2 separate regions of the Homo sapiens genome follow, and region 1 is linked to region 2. The links come from fine-mapping of genetic effects on gene expression. Tissue or cell type: skeletal muscle. Region 2 holds a variant in brackets; the other region holds the start of a gene. All regions are shown on one strand. Distances are between the middles of the regions.

What was found. PIP is the estimated chance that this variant, and not a neighbour inherited with it, causes the effect.
Region 1: it holds the start of FAM171A1, and the variant in region 2 is fine-mapped to the expression of FAM171A1 in skeletal muscle (FUSION, PIP 0.95).

Annotation. Positions count from the first base shown.
Region 1 is chr10:15,368,261-15,373,755 of GRCh38, forward strand. FAM171A1 (family with sequence similarity 171 member A1) reads right to left here and starts at 3,029. Exons shown (of 8, transcript NM_001010924.2): 1 at 2,696-3,029. The coding sequence starts at 2,792. RefSeq lists silencers at 2,786-3,015, 3,026-3,075.
Region 2 is chr10:15,241,546-15,247,040 of GRCh38, forward strand. The region is part of intron 5 of FAM171A1 (family with sequence similarity 171 member A1); the gene reads right to left. Among named protein-coding and RNA genes, the nearest start is that of FAM171A1-AS1, 36 kb to the left of the region's middle. The variant C/T (reference allele first, on the strand shown) is at 2,289.

The sequences.
Region 1 (5,495 bases), 130 kb after region 2:
ATTTTATCTTGAATATATAAAAAGCAAAGTAATGCCAAGAAATTCTGCAGATGCTAGTTTCATCAGATGACATAAAGACTCATTTAATCAAAAAGGTGTCATTTAGTTCTAGCAATCTAGTTGGACTACTACAGTATATGATTTCCGTCTGTTTGAGGTCTCTAAGCAGTTTTACCAAAGTAATTGCCAAATCCTGTTGGTGCATAATATGTATGTGCAATGCTTGTTCAAAGAATGATTCAAACAACAGATTCTACATAAAAGCAAGATTCTTACAAATTAGCTTTTGGGGAAGGTAAACATTGAACTTTTCTTCTTAAAATGCAAGCCAATGATGATCACTAAAGGTTGCGTTATGGTGTAGGTATTAGCTATGGTTGATGCTTACCTACTCAGCACCATCTGAGCACCAACTGTATGCATAACAACCTACAACCCACTGTGGGAAATGCAAAGTGAAATCAGATGCAGCATTTGTCTTCATCGTGTACATGATCCAGGAAAGCAGAGAACACATGAATTTTAAAACTACGTCATACTACAGCAAGTGAACATTAAGATGCTTTGAAGAACTCAGTGAGTTGGGACTGACCTTCTAATGTCAAAGGAGAAATTGTCCATTCCCTTAAAAATGCTGCTAGCTCAAAATCCAAATGCCAGGTAGTGAGACCTGATTTCTGAAAGAGTTCCTGGGCTCAAGGCTTTAAAAAGCCATCCTTACAGTAGATAACAACAAAGGAAGTAATCCAAGGGGTAAACTATGCCAAGATACTTGATCTCCCACTCCAACCATACCCTAAACTAAGCCACTGCTAGCCATGGCAGAAACCTCTTCTCATGTTGACCATTTCCCTCCCATTTCGCATAATATTCCATTCCTGAGAGGCGGATTTTTAGCAGCAAGAGCTGGGTAAAACGTGGTCTTAGACCTAAACCTGTTATATATATATTGAATATATATATATATATATATTGAAGACATGCCTTCCTTTCTCTAATTCAGAAGTGCATGAATTTAATATTTCCATATATTGGTATTTCAAGTGCAAAAGGAAAAATTCAACTTGCTCTTTAAAATTAACGGCCTCGCTGAAGTGCAAATATCATTCTCTAAAATAGCTGATTCAAAAAAGCAGTAGGGTATTAATAAAAGAAGCTGCAATGCAACACTGATGATCTAATGTCCTAAACATTCGTTTCCTACACGAAGAGACATATAGGTCTTTTTGTATTTTGTAGCTGTCCGCTCTTCCATGATATGCATTACTAAAATTATACACAATTCATAACGGTCATATTCTACCATGGCCATAGAAGCAGCAATGCATTTAAGATATACCAGGAAATGATACTGCAAGTGCCAGAATATGAAAACCTTCAACTCAACATGTAGGCAACAAACTCAACCCAACAGAGTGTTGGCAGAGCCTTTCCTCCCCGTAGCAACATCGTGGTGGAAGCCCGGGCGTCTCTGCTCCCAGGCACCCTGAGCATGTTAGCCGAGGAAAGGGGGTTCCAGCAAGGAGACCCTCGGATGCAGCACTCCTCGTTTCTTTGGCCTGCAGGGCCAACTTTGCAGGACACACACCCTTCTGAGGGGACAGGCCTCGGGCTCGGAATCCCGGGGTTCTGCAGGGCTGCAGGGAGCTCCCTCGCAGAGACCTGAGCCCCCGGCAAGAGTCCAGGCAGCGGTGCCCTGGGTGAATGCAGAGGCTCATCTGCGGGCCTCAGTGGCCCTTTTGAAAACGCCAGCAACAGAGGAGTCCTCGACGCTGTCCCCACAAAAATGTGCCAAGCAAGCCTCAGGGTGGGTGTGGGGGACTCCCCTCAAAAAACGCTGATTTTAAAAACAAAAGACAGGCTCGTGGCCATTCTCAGAGGCGACCACGTTACTCCCAGGGCTGGAAAGCAGATTTGTGGAGGCCAAAGACGAGACAAAAGGCACGAGCTGGCGACAAACTGATCTGGAAAGGATTTTTCTTTTTTTTTTTTTTTTTTTTGGTGAGCGATGAGGGCCTCCCAGTTCAATTCTTTCTTCCCTTACAGAGAAGACTCATGGGCCGCTGAGCAAATCCCTTATGGTCTGGAAGAGACGTCAGATAGGCAGGGGGAGAGAACCCCCCAAACTTTCCCAAACTGCGGCAGGCTAGTGGCTAGTGGCGGCAGCGGACCTCGGGGCCCCGGGACACAGGGGGCACCCCGGGGCGTCAGCCACCCCCTCCCGCCACAACAAAAGGCCCCAGCGCAGCCCAGGAGCTGGGACTTCCCAGACCCGAGCCCGGCGTGGGGAGCCGGGAGCGCGATCGGGCGGCGCGCCCTGGGCGGCCCCTCTGTCCGCGGCGACATGGGAGACAGAGCCGCGTGTCCGAGGCGCGGCATAAAGGGGACCCCCGGGCGCATCCAGACGAGCCCCCGCCGCAGCGGCGACAGCAGCTGGAGCTGCCCGCGCCCCCGCCCGACCCAGCCCCCGATCCCCGGCCCCCGAAGCCTCCGCCCGGGTCACCCCGCGTCGCCGGCCCGCGCCGCCCCCTCGGGAGCGCGTTGCGGGTGCTGCAGGCCCGGAGGCTCCCGATGCGGCTCGGGCTGCGTCGCCACCACGCGGCCCGGGACCCTCCCGCCGCCGCCGCCGCCGCCGCCGCCTCCGCGCCAGGCCCGGCGCGACACAAAGCCCCCGGCCCCGCCGCCGCCCACTGACCTTGGGCTCCGGCGCCGGGCTCCCGCAGCGTCTTGGTCACCGCCTTCCAGACGTGGCAGCCCAGCAGGCACAGCAGCAGCGTCGCGGACCTGCTCATCTCCGCCGCGGGGCCGGCGGCGGCTCGGGCTCGCCGAGAGCGGGCCGGGCGGCGGCGCGTCACGGGCGGCCGGGCGCCGCGCCCCCCTCCATGTCGCTGGCTCCGCGCGCCGGGCCCGCCGCCCGATTGGCCCGGCCCCGCCGCCCCGGCCGCTCCCTCCCGCGCCCCGCGCCGGGTTTCCCCGAAGAGCCGCGGCGGCGGCGGCGGCGGCGGCTGCTGCTGCTCCGCCAGCTCCTTAACCCCTTCCTGCCTCGCCCGCCGCCGCCGCCGCTGCCCGCGCCCAGGCCCCGGGCCCGTGGTGCCACCTGGCGGCTGCGGCGCCGAGGGCGCCCCCGCCCGGCGCCGCTGCGTCGCGCCCCCAGCCCGACCCCCGGCGACACTGCCCCGGCGCGCCCCATCCCCGCAGCCCCGCAGAAGAGCCAGACCTGCCTTTCAGGGCGGAGCCCTTTTCATCACACCAGGTCACCCAAGGGGCCGCAGGAGACATTGTATCTGGGTGTGACCCCCCCACCAGGTGCCATCCTAATGTAGTTGTGTCCCCCAACGTAGATTTCACACCCAGTGTTAAAGATCCGCAAAAACACTCCCCAAGCCAGTATAGACTGCAGTAGGCCTGCAGTACCTACGTGTTGGCGGGTGGACAGCTTCAGGAGGAATGGTACTTGGATGGTTCTAGGGGTTAGGGTGGGGAGGAAATCCACATCTTTTGAGGCCCTAGGTGCTTTAAAACTTTCTGTCCTATTAAAGAAAAAAGACTATTCCATGACACGTGTGAAAGCACAGCAAAGAAGACCCTCTTTGGAACCATCGCAATAGGTATAAGCCCTACCATGGGATTCTGCAGTCGGGGAGAAAGGTTGGGTTCAACTCTGAATACAGCAGGAACAAGTGGGGATTTATAACCGAGGACCAGGGTGGGATGCAGGGAATGAAAAATTATAAGAGGAAACATCAGGGGGAAGGGGGATTCTTGAAAGTCAGACATCCCCTGGCAGGGCTGGGCAGGACAGGGCGGATGGGGAAGCTGATCAGATATCCAGGGTGGAGGGTTCTTGGTAAACTGACTTAGCAGGGTTCTTCCTGAAAGCAGATTTTACAAGGAAGGGCACAACTGAGCCTAGAAGAAGGTTCCGGAGCCTGACTGTAGTTCGGTCAAGCAGAGACTCTTTGTCCATCTTCACAATACATGATCTAAGAGGTAGTTAGCATTATCCCCCCCATTCACAGATGAGAAAAGAGGCTAAAGAGGGTTAAGGAATTTGTCCAAAAGTGCATACCTGGTCAGTGGCAGAGCCAAAATTCTAATAAAACAGTCAGTCTGACCCCAAAATTGAAACTCTTCACAAAAACCTCCAGACTTGGCTGGGTGTGATGGTTCATGCCTATAATCCCAACACTTTGGGAGGCTGAGGTAGGTGGATGGCCTGAGTTCAGGAGTTAAGAGACCAGCTGGGCCAACATGGTGAAACCCTGTCTCTACCAAAAATACAAAAAAATTAACCAGGCATAGTGGCCCATGCCTGTGGTCCCAACTACTCAGGAGGCTGAGGTGGGAGGATCGCTTGAACCTGGGAGTGGGGAGGTTGCAGTGAGCCAAGATCGTGCCACTGCACTCCAGCCTGGATGACAGACTGAGACCCCGTCTCAAAAAAAAAAAAAAAAAAAAATCAAAAAATAAAACCACCAAAAAAACCACACACAAAACAAAACCAAACCTCTAGACTTTCCTTGAGCCTAGGGACCCCCTCCATTCCAACCTCAACTTTTCTTTCTCTCAACCCACTCCTGTCGGTATGCCTTCCACACAACCTTCACCTCCACTTGTCCCTCTCCACCTTCTCTTCCAACTAGCACTGCGGTGACCTTCCGACTTCCACTGGGGACCTAGGAAAATCCACTCCAGACCCATCATCCACCCCACACTGCTTCCAGAACACCAGGCCAGAAGGAGGGTTATTACTGTAATTTCATTAATTGAGCATTTAGACATGGCAGGCACCGTACCAAAAAAAGAATGAAGGATGGCACTTGCCCAGTTGGCTTATAAAAGACAAATGACTGTGAGACATGAGAAAAACTAGGACGTACAGAAGCCCATATGGGTTTTATAGTCACCCTTAGGACCAATGCTGCAATTTGCGCAAATCACGCACCTGCACAGGGTGGCAGGTAGTCAGGAAGGCAGAAAGAAATAGGGACTGCTGGATTCCCTCCTTCTTCTGATTCCTGCATCTAAGCCTAATATATGGCATCAAAGTTCCTAATATATGGCACTCACTGAACTGGAGCTATTTCCTCATAACAACTTATTTGGTAGGTATCATTGTTTCCATTTCACAGATGAACAAACCGAGGCTTGGTGCCATTAAACAACTTGCCCACAATACAAAGATCTGATAAGTGTAAATTCCCTATACCATGTTACTTCTGAGAATAAATTTTATGCAAATGATTCAAATTACCTCCAGGAGTGTCCAAATTGTTTGAACCTGCTCTAATCCCAGTGAAGTGCAAATCTAGTGAATACTATGGTGCCAATGTTCATTTCCTGGCATTGACAGTGTACTACAGTTATATAAGATGTTACAATTGGGGGAAGCTGGGAGAAGGATAGATGTGACCTCTCTGTACTATTTTTGTAACTTTTTATGAGTCTATAATTATTTCAGATGGAAATATTTAAAATAGAAAAAAAATCCCATT
Region 2 (5,495 bases):
ATAAATTTCATGTAATTTTCGACCCATGAGATATTCTCCTTTTGATTCATTTCCCCCATATTTATTGACGTACAGTTGAAAAACAAAAATTTTATGTACTTAAGATGTCTGACCTGATGTTTTGATATATACATCAAGCTAATTAACATATCCATCACTTTACAGTTACCATTGTTTTTTCATCTTCTTTCTCTTGGTGGTGAGAACACTTTGAATCCACCCTCTTAGTAAATTTTAAGTATACAGTACAGTCCTATTAACAACAGTTAGCAGGCTTTGCATTAAGTCTCTGGAGCTTAATCATCCTGAAGAACTAAAACTTTGTACCCCTTGATCAACATTCCCCCATTTGATTTTTTTCTTTAATCATTTAAAAATGTAAAAATGATTCTTAGCTTTCAGGCCACAGTTGGCCAAACCCAATTTAGATGAAAAATTATTAATAGATTCACAAGTTGCTATCTGTGCCATTTCTGGCTGTTAAACAATTTGGAATTGGCAGTTATTTTGATTTACCTCAAAAATAGATAATTTAAAGTATTAAACTATTTGAGATGATCGATTACTGTAATCATAAATAGCAGCTAATTATTAAATTGTTTTATGTGCTTAAGATGTGTTGGCCCATTCCCCATTTTTTTCCTGATCTAATACCGTCTTTAGATTTTTTATTTAACTAAAATATTTTAATTTCTACTTAGATAATATTACAATTAATGTAATAGCAACAAAAGTCTTATGAAATATGCAGGCTTCTATTGAGTATAATAAGTGAAAAAACATATGGTTTCTTTGAAATGTCCATCTTAAAGTTTTCAGAAAACATTTTAATTCATTTGGTTATTTTTGAATGACTATCCACAAACGTTGGCTTTTTTCTGCATACATGCAATCTGTTACAACCAGGAATTTGGCAGTTACATTTTTCATAGTAAATGTGAAGTTAAAAAGACCATTTCGGCCGGGCGCGTTGGCTCACGCCTATAATCCCAGCTCTTTGGGAGGCTGAGATGGATCACTTGAGGCCAGGAATTTGAGACCAGCCCGGGCAACATGGTGAGACCTTGTGTCTACGGAAAATAAACAATAAAACAAATTAGCCAGGTGTGGTGGTGTGTGCCTGTCGTCCCAGCTACTCAGGGGGCTGAGGTGGGAGGATTGCTTGAGCTTGGGAGGTCGAGGCTGCAGTGATCTGTGACTGCACCACTGCATGCCAGTCTGGCTGACAGTGCAGGACTCCGTCTCAAAAAAAAAAGGAAGCGGAAATAGGTCAACTTCACAATGAAGATTCCCAATGTACTGTCATGGTTATTTTTTCAGAGAGGAAACAGAGAATGGGCTAACTTATATTTCAGAGGCTTCCTAACAATGCACACACCTCTGTTTTCACCAATTTCTGTATTGTATTCATTTCCTATTGCTGCTATAAAAAACATTACCACAAATAATAGGGTCTTAAAACAGCACAGATTTACTTTCTTATACTCCTGGAGGTCAGAGGTCCAAAACCAGTTTCTCTGGTCTCAAGTCAAGGAGTCCACAGGGCCGGTTTCTCCTGGAGGCTCAGAAGGGAGAATCCCTTGCTTGCTGATTTTGGCTTCCAGTGGGTGCCTGTATTCCTTGGCTTGGGTCCCCTTCTCGCATTTCCAAAGTGCATGGCTCCGGCCTGCGCTCCCATCCTCACACTGCCGTCTCCTAATCTGATTCTGGCTCCTCTTGCATCCTGCTCATAAGGGCCCTTGTGATGGCCGTGGGCCCACCCAGAAAGTCCATGAGAATCACCCCATCTCCAGATTCTTCATCACTTCCACCAAGTCCCTTGACCGTATAAGGTAATATCCACAGGGCCTGGAGATTAGGATGCAGAGATAGTTCCATCTGCCATGGACATCAAAAACTTCTTTAAGTTTGTTATTTGTGAACTGTATATAAAGTCCACCGAGGAAAGCAAGGATGCTGCTTTCATACACCTGTGCCATATAGTTACAGTGCACACAACCCATACAGGAATCCCTAGGGAAGGCTTCCTTATATTAGGAGCCCCAGCCTTATTCCTCCATATTCAAATATACTCATTAAAAAAGAGAAGGCAAAAATGAGAAGCAAAAAATAAACAGCAGGGATGGAGGCTCCAAGATAGAAAAAAAATCCAATAGAACTGTCCTCCCTCTAAACAAGAGCTTAAACATCATCCTTTTATAACGTGTACATATACATATATACATAAAGGTAAATTCTATGTATACAGTCAATGTATACATTGACTGAGCAGCTCACCGCAAGCTCTG[C/T]CTCCCGGGTTTACTTACGCCATTCTCCTGTCTCAGCCTCCTGAGTAGCTGGGACTACAGGCGCCCGCCACCACACCCGGCTAATTTTTTGTATTTTTAGTAGAGACGAGGTTTCACCGTGTTAGCCAGGATGGTCTTGATCTCCTAACCTCGTGATCTGCCCACCTTGGCCTCCCAAAGTGCTGGGATTACAGGCATATCAGAGTATCTTAAATTGCCTTTTAAAGATATCTAAATTGGCTAGACATGGTAGCTCACGCCTGTCATCCCACGACTGTGGGAAGCTGAGGTGGGTGGATCACTTGAGCTCAGGAGTTCGAGACCACCTAGGCAACATAGTGAAACCCCATCTTTACTAAAAAAATACAAAAATTAGCCTGGGGTGGTGGTGGGCACCTGTAATCCCAGCTACTTGGGAGGCTGAGGCACTAGAATCACTTGAACCTGGGAGGCGGAGGTTGTAGTGAGCTGAGATCTTGCCACAGCACGCCAGCTTGGGCGACAGAGTGAGACTCCGTCTCAAAAAAGCCCCCCAAATTAGCTAGGCCTGGTGACCACCCTTGTACTCCCAGTTCTTCAGGGGGCTGAGGTGGGAGGATTGCTTCAGCTCTTGAGATAGAGACTGTAGTGAGCTATGATCACACCATTGCACTCTAGCCTGGGTGACAGAGGGAGACCCTGTCTCTTAAAAACAAAAGAAAACAAAAAACCCTAAAATTATTCTCATGTGATTCAACCATTCAACAGACATTTTAGTTGGGTACCTAGCATTATGCCAGAAACTGTTATTGATCACAAGCATTCAGAATAAATAGACTTGGTGAGGGCATAGGGAGTAACTGGTACCCACACAGACTTGGTGAAGGTGCAGGGAGTGGCTGGTACCTGCACAGACTCGGTGAGGGTGCAGGGAGTAACAGGTCCCCGCACAGACTCAGGGAGGGCACAGGGAGTAACTGGCACCCGCATACCGTGCCGTTCAAGCTGATAGGACCATTGCAACGTGCACAATGTGCTCAGGATGAGGCCGGGGAGGAGACTGGAAAGGATCGGCTGTGCTCGTGAAAGTGACAAGCTGTCATTTACTTTTGTGATGACTAATTTTGTCTGACAACATGGCTAGGCCACAGTCCCCAGAAATGTGGTTAAATATGTCCAGATGTGACTGGGGAGGTATTTTGTTTAGAAGAGATAAACTGTTCAGCCAGTTGACTTTGCTTTTTTTTTTCTTATTTATTTATTTATTTTTTGAGACGGTGTCTCACTCTGTCATCCAAGCTGGAGTGTGGGGACGCTATCTTGGCCCACCTCAACCTCCACATCCTGGGTTTAAGTGATTCTCCTGCCTCAGCCTCTGGCGTAGCTGGGATTATAGGCATGCACCACCACGCCCAGCTAATTTTTTGTATTTTTAGTAAAGATGGGGTTTCACCATATTGGCTAGGCTGGTCTCAAACTCTTGACCTCAGGTGATCTGCCTGTCTTGGCCTCCCAAAGTGCTGGTATTACAGGCATGAGCCATGGTGCCCGGCCCAATCTGTTGACTTTGAGTGAAGCAGATCACTCTCCACAGTGAGGGAGGGCCTCATCTCATCAGCCTGCCTTGCAATTTTGGACTTGCCAGCCTTCCCAATTGTGTGAGCCATTCCTTAAAATCAATCTCTCCAAATATACATATATCTCCTATTGGCTCTGTTTCTTTAGAGAATCCTAATACACTCATTATAACAACAGTGGGTACTATTATTATTGCCATTTCACAGTGGAAGAAACTAGATCAGAAAGGCTAAGTAACTTGGCCAGGGCCACACAGCCAGTGGGTGGCAGAGCTGGCATTCCACACCACTGTGCCCCCCAGACTCCCTGCTCTTAACCACACTCTCCGCTGCTTCTCAGTGCATTGACCTGGGTGCGCTTCAGCGCCCCCTGGGAGGGCTACAGGGGACAGGCAGACCATACAAGGGGGTGTATATTCATATCTCTTACAAATGCAAATAGAGGTAAGTAATTTGCCCAAGGTGGGACTCACAGTTTTATAAGTAGCAGAACCCAGGTTTTCAGGAAACAAAACACAAACTCAAAGCTCTTTCCATTCTCTTGCCCACTTCCTCTGTGTTTTTCTTTATCCATTTTCTTCCTCCCTTTAGAATTCCGGCATTCTTCAGAGACTCTTGGTCACACATCCCTCAGGCTACTCCCTCCTGGAGGCACAGTGTACCTCAGGTCCCCACCATGACCTTGATGCCCCCCAAATTATCAGGCTCACAGAGAACACACACCATCAATAAAGTGCCCGTCTCGCTTACTGCAGGATATGTGAACAGATTATCAGGCTCTCAGAGAACACACACCATCAATGAAGTGCCCGTCTTGCTTACTGCAGGATATGTGAACAGACAGCATCACAATCCACTTAACAATATCAAGTTTACTGTGGCTGGTAAAATCAATGCATTCCACACAAATAATTACAGTGTCTCTATTAATTATTTGGAAAGTAAAAATAAGACAAAACAAAAATCCCCTCCAAAAGCCCAACAGGCGTTTCTTTTAAAATATAATTCCTAGAACTCTGTTTTAACTGATTCGAGGAATTAGATATCTTTGAAAATATACTGATATCAAAAATCTCCCAATTATCTTCATGCATGGTCTAACAGTTTTAAATTCTGAACTGGCTTATTTGAAAACTGGTATTTTCTTTTTTCGAGACAGTCTTGCTCTGTCATCCAGGCTGGAGTGCAGTGATGCGATCTTGGCTCACTGCAACCTCTGCCTCCCAGGTTCAAGGGATCCTCCCAACTTAGCCTCCCAAGTAGCTGGGACTATGGACATGTACCACCACAGCTGGCTAATTTTTTGTATTTTTAGTAGAGATAGGGTTTCACCATGTTGGCCAGGTTGGTCTCAAACTCCTGACCACAAGTGATCTGCCCGCCTTGCCTCCCAAAGTGCTGGGATTATAGGTGTGAGCCACCGTGCCCAGCAGCAAATTGATATTTTCAAGCTTGACTTTCAGGGCACTAGGAAGCAAAGGGGGGTAAGAGGCCCCACGCTGCCAAGACCCTCAGCCCGAGCACATGCTCGTGGGCTGGTATCATGAGTGCAAACCAATACAACTGTCTGGAGGGAAATCTGGAAATATGTTTTAAAAGTTTTAGAATTTTGTACATTTTGTAACTCAGCAATTCTTCTAAAATGTCATCC